Regions from separate parts of the Homo sapiens genome. Here regions 1 and 3 are each linked to region 2. The links come from fine-mapping of genetic effects on gene expression. A gene starts in region 2. Each other region holds a variant in brackets. All regions are shown on one strand. Distances are from middle to middle. Region 1 overlaps MTMR4 (myotubularin related protein 4). Region 2 holds the start of RAD51C (RAD51 paralog C). Region 3 overlaps PRR11 (proline rich 11).

Evidence for each region.
Region 1: its variant is fine-mapped to the expression of RAD51C in T cells (TOPMed, PIP 0.97).
Region 3: its variant is fine-mapped to the expression of RAD51C in sun-exposed skin (GTEx, PIP 0.98).

The regions. Positions count from the first base shown.
Region 1 is chr17:58,510,747-58,513,505 of GRCh38, forward strand. It overlaps MTMR4 (myotubularin related protein 4), which reads right to left. Exons shown (of 18, transcript NM_001378067.1): 2 at 2,106-2,195; 3 at 1,644-1,760; 4 at 683-765. Among named protein-coding and RNA genes, the nearest start is that of MTMR4, 2.5 kb to the right of the region's middle. RefSeq lists an enhancer at 2,696-2,755. The variant G/A (reference allele first, on the strand shown) is at 1,299.
Region 2 is chr17:58,690,852-58,693,598 of GRCh38, forward strand. It overlaps RAD51C (RAD51 paralog C), which reads left to right and starts at 1,751. Exons shown (of 9, transcript NM_058216.3): 1 at 1,751-1,937. The coding sequence starts at 1,793. TEX14 (testis expressed 14, intercellular bridge forming factor) reads right to left here and starts at 1,194. Exons shown (of 32, transcript NM_031272.5): 1 at 1,088-1,194. IGBP1C (IGBP1 family member C) reads right to left here and starts at 1,194. Exons shown (of 2, transcript NM_001395966.1): 1 at 1,088-1,194. RefSeq lists enhancers at 1,509-1,608, 1,939-2,108.
Region 3 is chr17:59,175,318-59,178,076 of GRCh38, forward strand. All of the region lies in intron 2 of PRR11 (proline rich 11), which reads left to right. It also overlaps the pseudogene SPDYE22P. Among named protein-coding and RNA genes, the nearest start is that of PRR11, 21 kb to the left of the region's middle. The variant G/A (reference allele first, on the strand shown) is at 1,194.

The DNA of each region.
Region 1 (2,759 bases), 180 kb before region 2:
TTCTATTTTTAGTAGAGATGGGGTCTCGCTATGTTGCCCAGGCTGATCTTGAACTCCTAAGCTGAAGGGATCTTCCCACCTTGGCCACCCGAAGTGCTGGTATTACAGGCGTGAACCACCGTGCCCAGCCTGATTGTTTTACAATCTTCACCCTCATAGCACTCCTTATTCCCTTTCCCTGCTTTATTTTTTTCCTTTACACTTACTATCATTTCACAAATTTTACTTATTACTTACGGTTGGTATCTCCTCATTGGAATGTAAGCTCTCTGAGGCGGCAAAATTTTGTCTATTTGTTCCCTGCTGTATCCCCAGGGCTTAAAACAGGCTGGCATTGAGTAGGGTACTCAATACATGTATATCAAATGAATAAATAAATAAACCAACAATAATATGAGTGCTCTGTGCCAGATATTGTCCTCGGTGCTTTCATACACATACACATTATCTCACTTAATCCTTACGATGACTCCATGAACTAGGCATTACCCCCATTTTTTCAGGTCAAGATCCTATGGGTCAGTAAACTGACCTCCCAACCCAGAACATGGTCTTCACCTTTTCTTCCAACTGGGGAAAGTGAGGCAGGATCTTTCCTCTCTTGCACCAGAGAAACCCTGCAGCACAGAGAACTGGACAAGACTAGGGCCAGGGGACCTGAGTGAGGCTCCGTTGTTCTCACCTCACCACTTTGGAGTCCTTGCAGGAAATGTGCAACTGGAACATATCACGGCTCTCCACACTGTCAATCATCCGGAGGGGGACCTGTAGAGGAAGGGCAAACTGAAGCTCAGACTCCCCACTGGGTACCACTCCTCACCCTCACCCTAGCGTAGGCACTAATGTATCAATAGCAGGAAGGAAACCAACATTTACTGAGGGTCTGTTAAGCACCTGGTAACTGTACGGAGTCCTCTGCATATGTGATCCCAATTAATGATCCCAATAACGTTGCACAGCAGGTGCTTTCAGCCCATATTACGAGGAGAAAAATCAAGCCTCAGTTAGGTGACTTGACCAAGGTCACCCAGCTGGTGAGTGGCAACGCAGGAAAAGAGCCCAGGTTTGCCTGACTCCAAAGCCTGTGTTCTTCCAACAATGCCACTGTGCTCCTTAGAAGGGCCAGTAATAGAATAATGGAAAGAGAGAAGAGGAGAAAGGAGAATGAGCCAGAAACAGAGCTAGGAAAATGAGGCAGGAAAACATGAGGTCAGAGAGAAACAGAAGGGATCCCCAACTTTTTTTTTTTTATTTTTTTGAGAGGTAGTCTCACCCTGTCACCCAAGCTGGACAGCAGT[G/A]GCACAATCTCGGCTCACTGCAACCTCCACCTCCCAGGTTCAAGTGATTCCCGTACCTCAGCCCCCGAGTAGGTGGGATTACAGGTGCGCACCACCAAGCCCGACTAATTTTTGTATTGTTAGTAGAGACACAGTTTCACCATGTTGGCCAGGCTGGTCTCGAACTCCTGACCTCAAGTGATCCACCCGCCTCGGCCTCCCAAAGTGCTGGGATTACAGGCGTGAGCCACTGCGCCCGGCCTCCAACTTTTTTAATGACATGATCAAGGACAGCCTTGGAACAATCCCACCTTGAACTTCATAGGGATTCTAGCTTAGGGGTAGGAGAACAATACAGAAACTCACGTTGATGACAGAGTCCTTGAATTTGATATGCAGCCGGTAGTTAGAGATGGCAATGAGGGCATCGGCTGCCCGGCCCAGGAACTCTACTCCCTCACCCTGCAGCACTGTGAAGGGGACCTGTCAAGGGGCAGAGAAACCTTCAGTCCAGAAGTGAGTGACCACCTTATCCTCTTCTACAGCCCCTGATCTGTGGGATCCCCTCTGGAAAAGGTGGGCCAAGGCAAGAGAGGAGAGTTCTCTCCACGGTAACAGCACCAGGCAACAGCTGTACAGGAAAGCTGCCTTTCCTTCCCTGCGGCCAAAGGCTCCAGGATGCGCAGACAAACCCTCCTCCTCCAGAGACCAGGGAACATGAAGCCAGAGCTCTGGTACCAGATGCCCTTGAGGATTTTTGGGAGAAGGGAGGGTGTTTTTTAACTGGGCAGGGAGCCCCATCTATCCTGGCCCCCAACTCCTCCTTACCTGAAGATTCTCTTCCTCCTTCACTAGTTCCTTGGGGGGGAACAGATCCTTGGCTTGGATGTACTCCAGGCTGGGGGGCCCCTCCTCACCCTGTAGGAAGGCCACAGTCCTAAGTCACCAAGCTCCACTTAGCCCATCAGGCTCATTCTGCTCCTCTCCCCACCAAGAAATCCACAGATACCCACACACACACACCTCTAAAGGTTCTGGTCACCAGAGAAGGGAAAAGAGATCTGACTTGGTTGGAGACAGGGAAGGGTGAAATGGAGAGCATATCAGCCTATTAAGCCTAAGGAAAGAGTGAGGCCCCAGGAGGAATTGGGAATCTGCACTCTTCAAAGAGGGACTCTCCTATAGAACCAACATTTCAAAAATGGAGGAGAGAAAACTAAGGAAAAGAAAGACTCTTTCCCTTAGACCCGCATAAGGGTAAGGCAGGAGTGGGGATGGGAAAGTGCTGTCCTGAGGAAAAGGAGCCAGGTATGGCAGCTGGTTTCAGAGAGAAGGGAAATCAGGCGCCTACAAGCCACTGAAGCTTCAATCTGGTGGGTGAAGGAGACAAAGAGGAGTGGGTGGGGGGATTCAGTCCCACGCCTCTAGAGGGCCTTCACCGACGCTTTCAAAAGGAAGACGTGTTTGAGAGCTGGGCTTATC
Region 2 (2,747 bases):
TAAGAAAACTGTGCTGAGGTGTTTTGTTTGTTTGAGACAGGGTTTCACTCTATCACCCAAGCTGGAGTGCAGTGGCGTGATCATAGCTCACTCCCAGGCTGAAGGGATCCTCCCACCACAGACTTCTGAGTAGCTGGGACGACCGGTGCATGCCACCATGCCCGGCTAATTTTTTGTACTTTTGGTACAGACAGTGTTTCGCCATGTTGTCGAGGCTGGTCTCAAACTCATGAGCTCAAAGAGATCCACCTGCCTCGACCTCCCAAAGTGCTGGGATTACAGGCACGAGCCACTGCGCCCGGCCAGCTTTTTTTCTTTTATCAGAATTGATATTAAACTATATGCTGAGCTTCCATGTCCTTATCTTCCTTTTGGCATGGCTATGGCCATTTGAAATGTGTGGGATTTGCTAAAGTGCTCAACATACGTTGTTTCCTTTTTTAGATCTAAGTATGTAGAGGGCTCTGATTTGCAATATTTAGAAAGTTCTTCTAAGCTGGGAAGAAAAGTCAAGACTAAGAATCATTGCCAACAGGGCCGGGCGCGGTGGCTCACGCCTGTACTCCCAGCATTTTGGGAGGCCGAGGCAGGCGGATCACGAGGTCAGGAGTTCGAGACCAGCCTGGCCAATATGGTGAAACCCCTTCTCTAATAATAATACAAAAATTAGCCGGGCATGGTGGCGTGCGCCTGTAATCCCAGGTACTCAAGAGGCTGAGGCAGGAGACTCACTTGAACCCGGGAGGCGAAGGTTGCAGTGAGCCGACATCGTGCCACTGCACTCCATCATGGGCAACACAGTGAGACTCTGTCTCAAAAAAAAAAAAAAAAAAATCGCCAATAGGTAGGGAATAAGTTACCCCCTGCTAAATAAGTTACACTCACCTAGGCAAGGAAGGAACTCATAAACCACCTTCTAAACTGCTTGCCTTCCTCCCCGAAGTTCTGTAATTTAGAGGCGGTCACTACCACTGCTTGAACACCCCTTCCCAAGTCTGTACCACAAAAGGAGCTCTTGTGTAGCCCAGCCCCTCCTTCTCAGGACCCCAGGAGCCCAGACACACTAATGGGGACATTAGTTGCTTACTTTTCCAGCTACTGCTTAAGCTAGGCAGGCCATGAAGAAATAACGGTCTCAGTAACCTCCATGCTCGGGATACGACTCCCGGGAAGACGTGGGTGGGTGCGGGGAATGCGGACTGATCCCTCCCAGCGGCCGTTGGGGGCTGGCCCACAATCCCTCGCGAGGGCGGGAAAAGCAATGTGGTCGTTGCGGGGGGGGGGGGTCAGAAAAGGGGGACGGTCAGCGGGAAGAGCCAAGAGACTGCAACTCTACAAAGAGCACGCAGATTAATTCTAATGATTGTTCCCTGAGCTTTTCACACCAAAATAATGGTAACTGGCTAGTGTGTGCCCGTTACGCTCACTACTCCCACTCGAGATCATTCCTATTAATGACTCTGAGGCTTCACCTAACAGGCCACGGTGGAGGCAAGGAAATGTGGCGTGGAGAACCCACTGGGCCTGGCTCTCCGTCCTATGGTCTCCGTCCATCGTTTTACAGTCAGGGTGTACATTTGATGAGGAATCTCTAAATGGGATTTTGGGGAATCAAAACGGAATGGTGCATAAGTGTGAAAATTTACAAGACTGCGCAAAGCTGCAAGGCCCGGAGCCCCGTGCGGCCAGGCCGCAGAGCCGGCCCCTTCCGCTTTACGTCTGACGTCACGCCGCACGCCCCAGCGAGGGCGTGCGGAGTTTGGCTGCTCCGGGGTTAGCAGGTGAGCCTGCGATGCGCGGGAAGACGTTCCGCTTTGAAATGCAGCGGGATTTGGTGAGTTTCCCGCTGTCTCCAGCGGTGCGGGTGAAGCTGGTGTCTGCGGGGTTCCAGACTGCTGAGGAACTCCTAGAGGTGAAACCCTCCGAGCTTAGCAAAGGTAACGACTCCTGATGGCAAGCTGAGGCACACCGGCCGCCGTCAGCGCCGCCTCAGTCTTCGTTCTCTCGCCTCGGCCTTCAGCCCAGTCTCCGTTAGATTCTGCTTCCTCCCACGTCCATGTTTACAGCGTGAAAGAGCTCCTCGACTCCACTTACAAGTTGTCTGAATGGTTAGGAGAACTGTGGTCGTGAAAACATTTACTAATTGCTTTTCCTCTGGCAATGCCTGCTGAATGCTTTGAGGATTGTCTCATTTAACCCTCAACCCGCTTACGTAGATTATTATATTCAGTATATGGATGAGAGAACTGATATCTTGGGGAGCTTAGGTAACTTTTCATGCTAACTGGGTTAGGAAATACTGGAGTCAGAATTGGTTGTCTAATTTTTGCTGTTCCAAGATCCAAGGGGTAAGGGTTAAATTTCAGAAATGCAGGATTTTGTGTAGGACTAGAGACACTAAGAATGAGAAAGAGAGTAGAATCCCCGGAATCTTGAGGAAGCATAGAAAGAATATTCTCTTACGTAATTAACTGAAACACCCAAAACCTCATATTCCAGAGCATTGCAGATGGGAACCACTGCATCCTGAGACATACAAATATGAGGCTGGCGGTGGTCACTTGTTGTGCACATCTCTCTATGACATGTCTGGACCTGTGCTATTCACTGAAGAAGATGGAACAGAATTTTAAGTTACTGCCCTTACTGATGGAAAATACAGAGGTTTCAATTCGCCTCTAAAGAATAAGTCTCGTGGACCCAGCCTTAACTGTTTAAGTCATACCGCGCGCAGACTGTGTCCCCCA
Region 3 (2,759 bases), 480 kb after region 2:
GGATGAAGACAAAAACCCAACTGGTGGCCGAGAGTGGTGGCTTACGCCTGGAATCCCAGCACATTGGGAGGCTGAGGCAGGAGGATCATTTGAGGCCAGGAGTTTGAGATGAGCCTGGGCAACATAGCAAGACCCTCGTCTCTATAAAAAATGTAAAAGACACGCCAGACGTGGTGGCTCATGCCTGTAATCCCAGCAATTTGGGAGGCTGAAGCAGGTGGGTCGCTTGAGGCCAGGAGTTCGAGACCAGCCCCATATCTACTAAAGATACAAAAATCAGCCTGGTGTGGTGGCACACCTCTTAGTCCTAGCTACGCAAGAGGCTGAGGCACAAGAATTACATGAACCCAGGAGGAGGAGGTTGCAGTGAGCCGAGATTGGGCCACTCCATTCCAGCCTCAGAGGCAGAACAAGACTCTGTCTCAATAAATAAATAAATAACTGTCCAGGTGTGGTGTCACAGCCCTGTAGTCAAAGCTAATCCGGAGGCTGAGGTGGGAGGATCACTGGAGTACAGGATATGGAGGCTGCAGTGAGCTATGATCTCACCACTGCACTCCAGCTTGGGGGACAGGGCAAGTCTGTCTCAAAAAAATAAAAGAAATTGAATACATTGATATTGTGCCAAGACCCTGCCTTCTACAGGCATCTAGTCTAATGGGACTGGGAGTAATCAGGGCAGATGACGTAATCCCAATATCACATTATAATAGGATGTAACTGGAGAGCTACAAGCATGTAAAAGTTGCAAGATGAGGGAAGGCATCACAGAGGCTATGGGGTGAACTGACTTTAAGGAATGGGTCCTTCCCTTCAGAACCACATGTGTGCGGGACACCCAGACAGAAAACACAAACGCAAAGTCGAGTGGAGGGCATTTGGAAAGAGCGGTGAAGCCACACCAGGAAACACCAAGATGGCGAGCCAGTTTGGTTGTAGAGATTATAGAGAGGGTGGAATTTGCACTGTGGACCCTGGCCTCAATTTAGAAAGACATCAGCTAAGGAAGTTGTTCAGGTGGGCAGTGAGGGTGTTGTGCTTTGGAAAGACGCTCAGGCTGCACTAGGAAGCCCCCAGGCTTGGGGAGAGACTCCAGGAGGCCCCAGCAGGGAGCATTTGACAGTGGATTCGAGTGATGCAAGGGGGACCTGAACTGTTGCCTCTGTCATGGGAACCCGGAGGAGGTCGATGGC[G/A]TTTGCAGTTGATATGGGAAGGAGAGAGACAGAAGAACCAGAAATGTCTGCTTGCTGGGGGAAGCATCGTGTCCGCTCCTTTGCTCCTTTTCTTCTCCCCTTAGGAGCGGTTTATGGTTCCTTTTGTTTTATTCTTTTATTTGTACACTGGCGTTGGAATTTGGTTTTTTTGGCTTTTTTTTTTTTTTTTTTTTTTTTTTTTTTGAGAAAAAGTCTCGCTCTGTTGCCCAGGCTGGAATGCAGTGGCTCAAACTTAGCTTACTGCAATGTCTGCCTCCTGGGTTCAACGGGTTCTCTTGCCTGAGCCTCCCGAGTAGTTTGGATTACAGGTGCACACCACCATGCCTGGCTAATTTTTCTATTTTTAGTAGAGATGGGGTTTTGCCATGTTAGTCAGGCTGGTCTCAAACTCCTGACCTCAAGTGATCTGCTTGCCTCGGCCTCCCGAAGTGCTGGGATTATAGGCGTGAGCCACCGCGCCCAGCCTGAGTTTCTTTTTAGAAACAGCAGTCTAAAAACAAGATAGTATAATCCTCTTTTTTGTACACAGAGTAAAGAGGACAAATAGGTGCAAGAATAAATGAAAGGCTGGAATCCCACTTCCCCCGCTGTCCCAGGGTATTGGATATTGACAGATAGGAGGAAGCAAACCACTCACAGAGCCAGGAATAAATGAATGCATTGGTATTGCCGGGAGAAGAGGCCGGCGCGGCTAAAATATGCTATGACCATAGCCAGGAGATACTGGTGGAGAGAAAGGAACACAGAAAGGGAGAGGTCACATCTTGGGAGAGGAAGATCGTGGAGACAGTGGAATGGGGGTCTAGGGAGGGTTTGCCCATCAGAGAAGGGACCTGAGTGTTGGGGTGACTGTGCTCATGTGGAAATTGCGGGGTGGTGGGGTATTTGAAGGTCGGATGCAAATCCGAGAAGCTGGAGGAAGGCATGTTGGTGATGCTCCCAGGATGGTGGGCTCTGATGAGATCTTTGAAGGAGTGTGTCTAGGTCGGCTGGTATCAGGAGGGTCTTTTGTGTGCCAGGCAGAGAACTGTCCCAAAGAACTGAGAGTAAAGGGGCTAGGAGCTTCAGGGCTGCGGCCTGACTGTGGCCCAGAGCTCAGATCCCAAATGACCCATAGGAGAGGCAGGGGCCACTCATTCACTCAGCAAGAGACCAGCAGAGTCCTGAGGGAGATGCTGACAAATAATAAAAAGACCAAGAATAGCCGGGAGTGGCAGCTCAAGCCTGTGATCCCAGAAGTTTGAGAGGCTGAGACAGGAGGATCAAGTGAGTCCAACAGTTCTAGAACAACCTGGGCAACATAGCAAGACTGTTTGTATAAAAATTATTCGAGCATGATGGCATGTGCCTGTACTCCCAACTGCTCAGGAGGCTGAGGCAGGATTGCAAGAGCCCAGGAATTAGAGGCTGTGGTGAGCTGTGATCATGCCACTGCACTCCATCCTGTGGAACACAGCTAGATACTGTCTCGAAAAAAAAAAAAAAACAGGTGGGCACCAAGACTCAAGACTGTGGGAGCCAGAGGGGCACAGTGGCTCACATCTG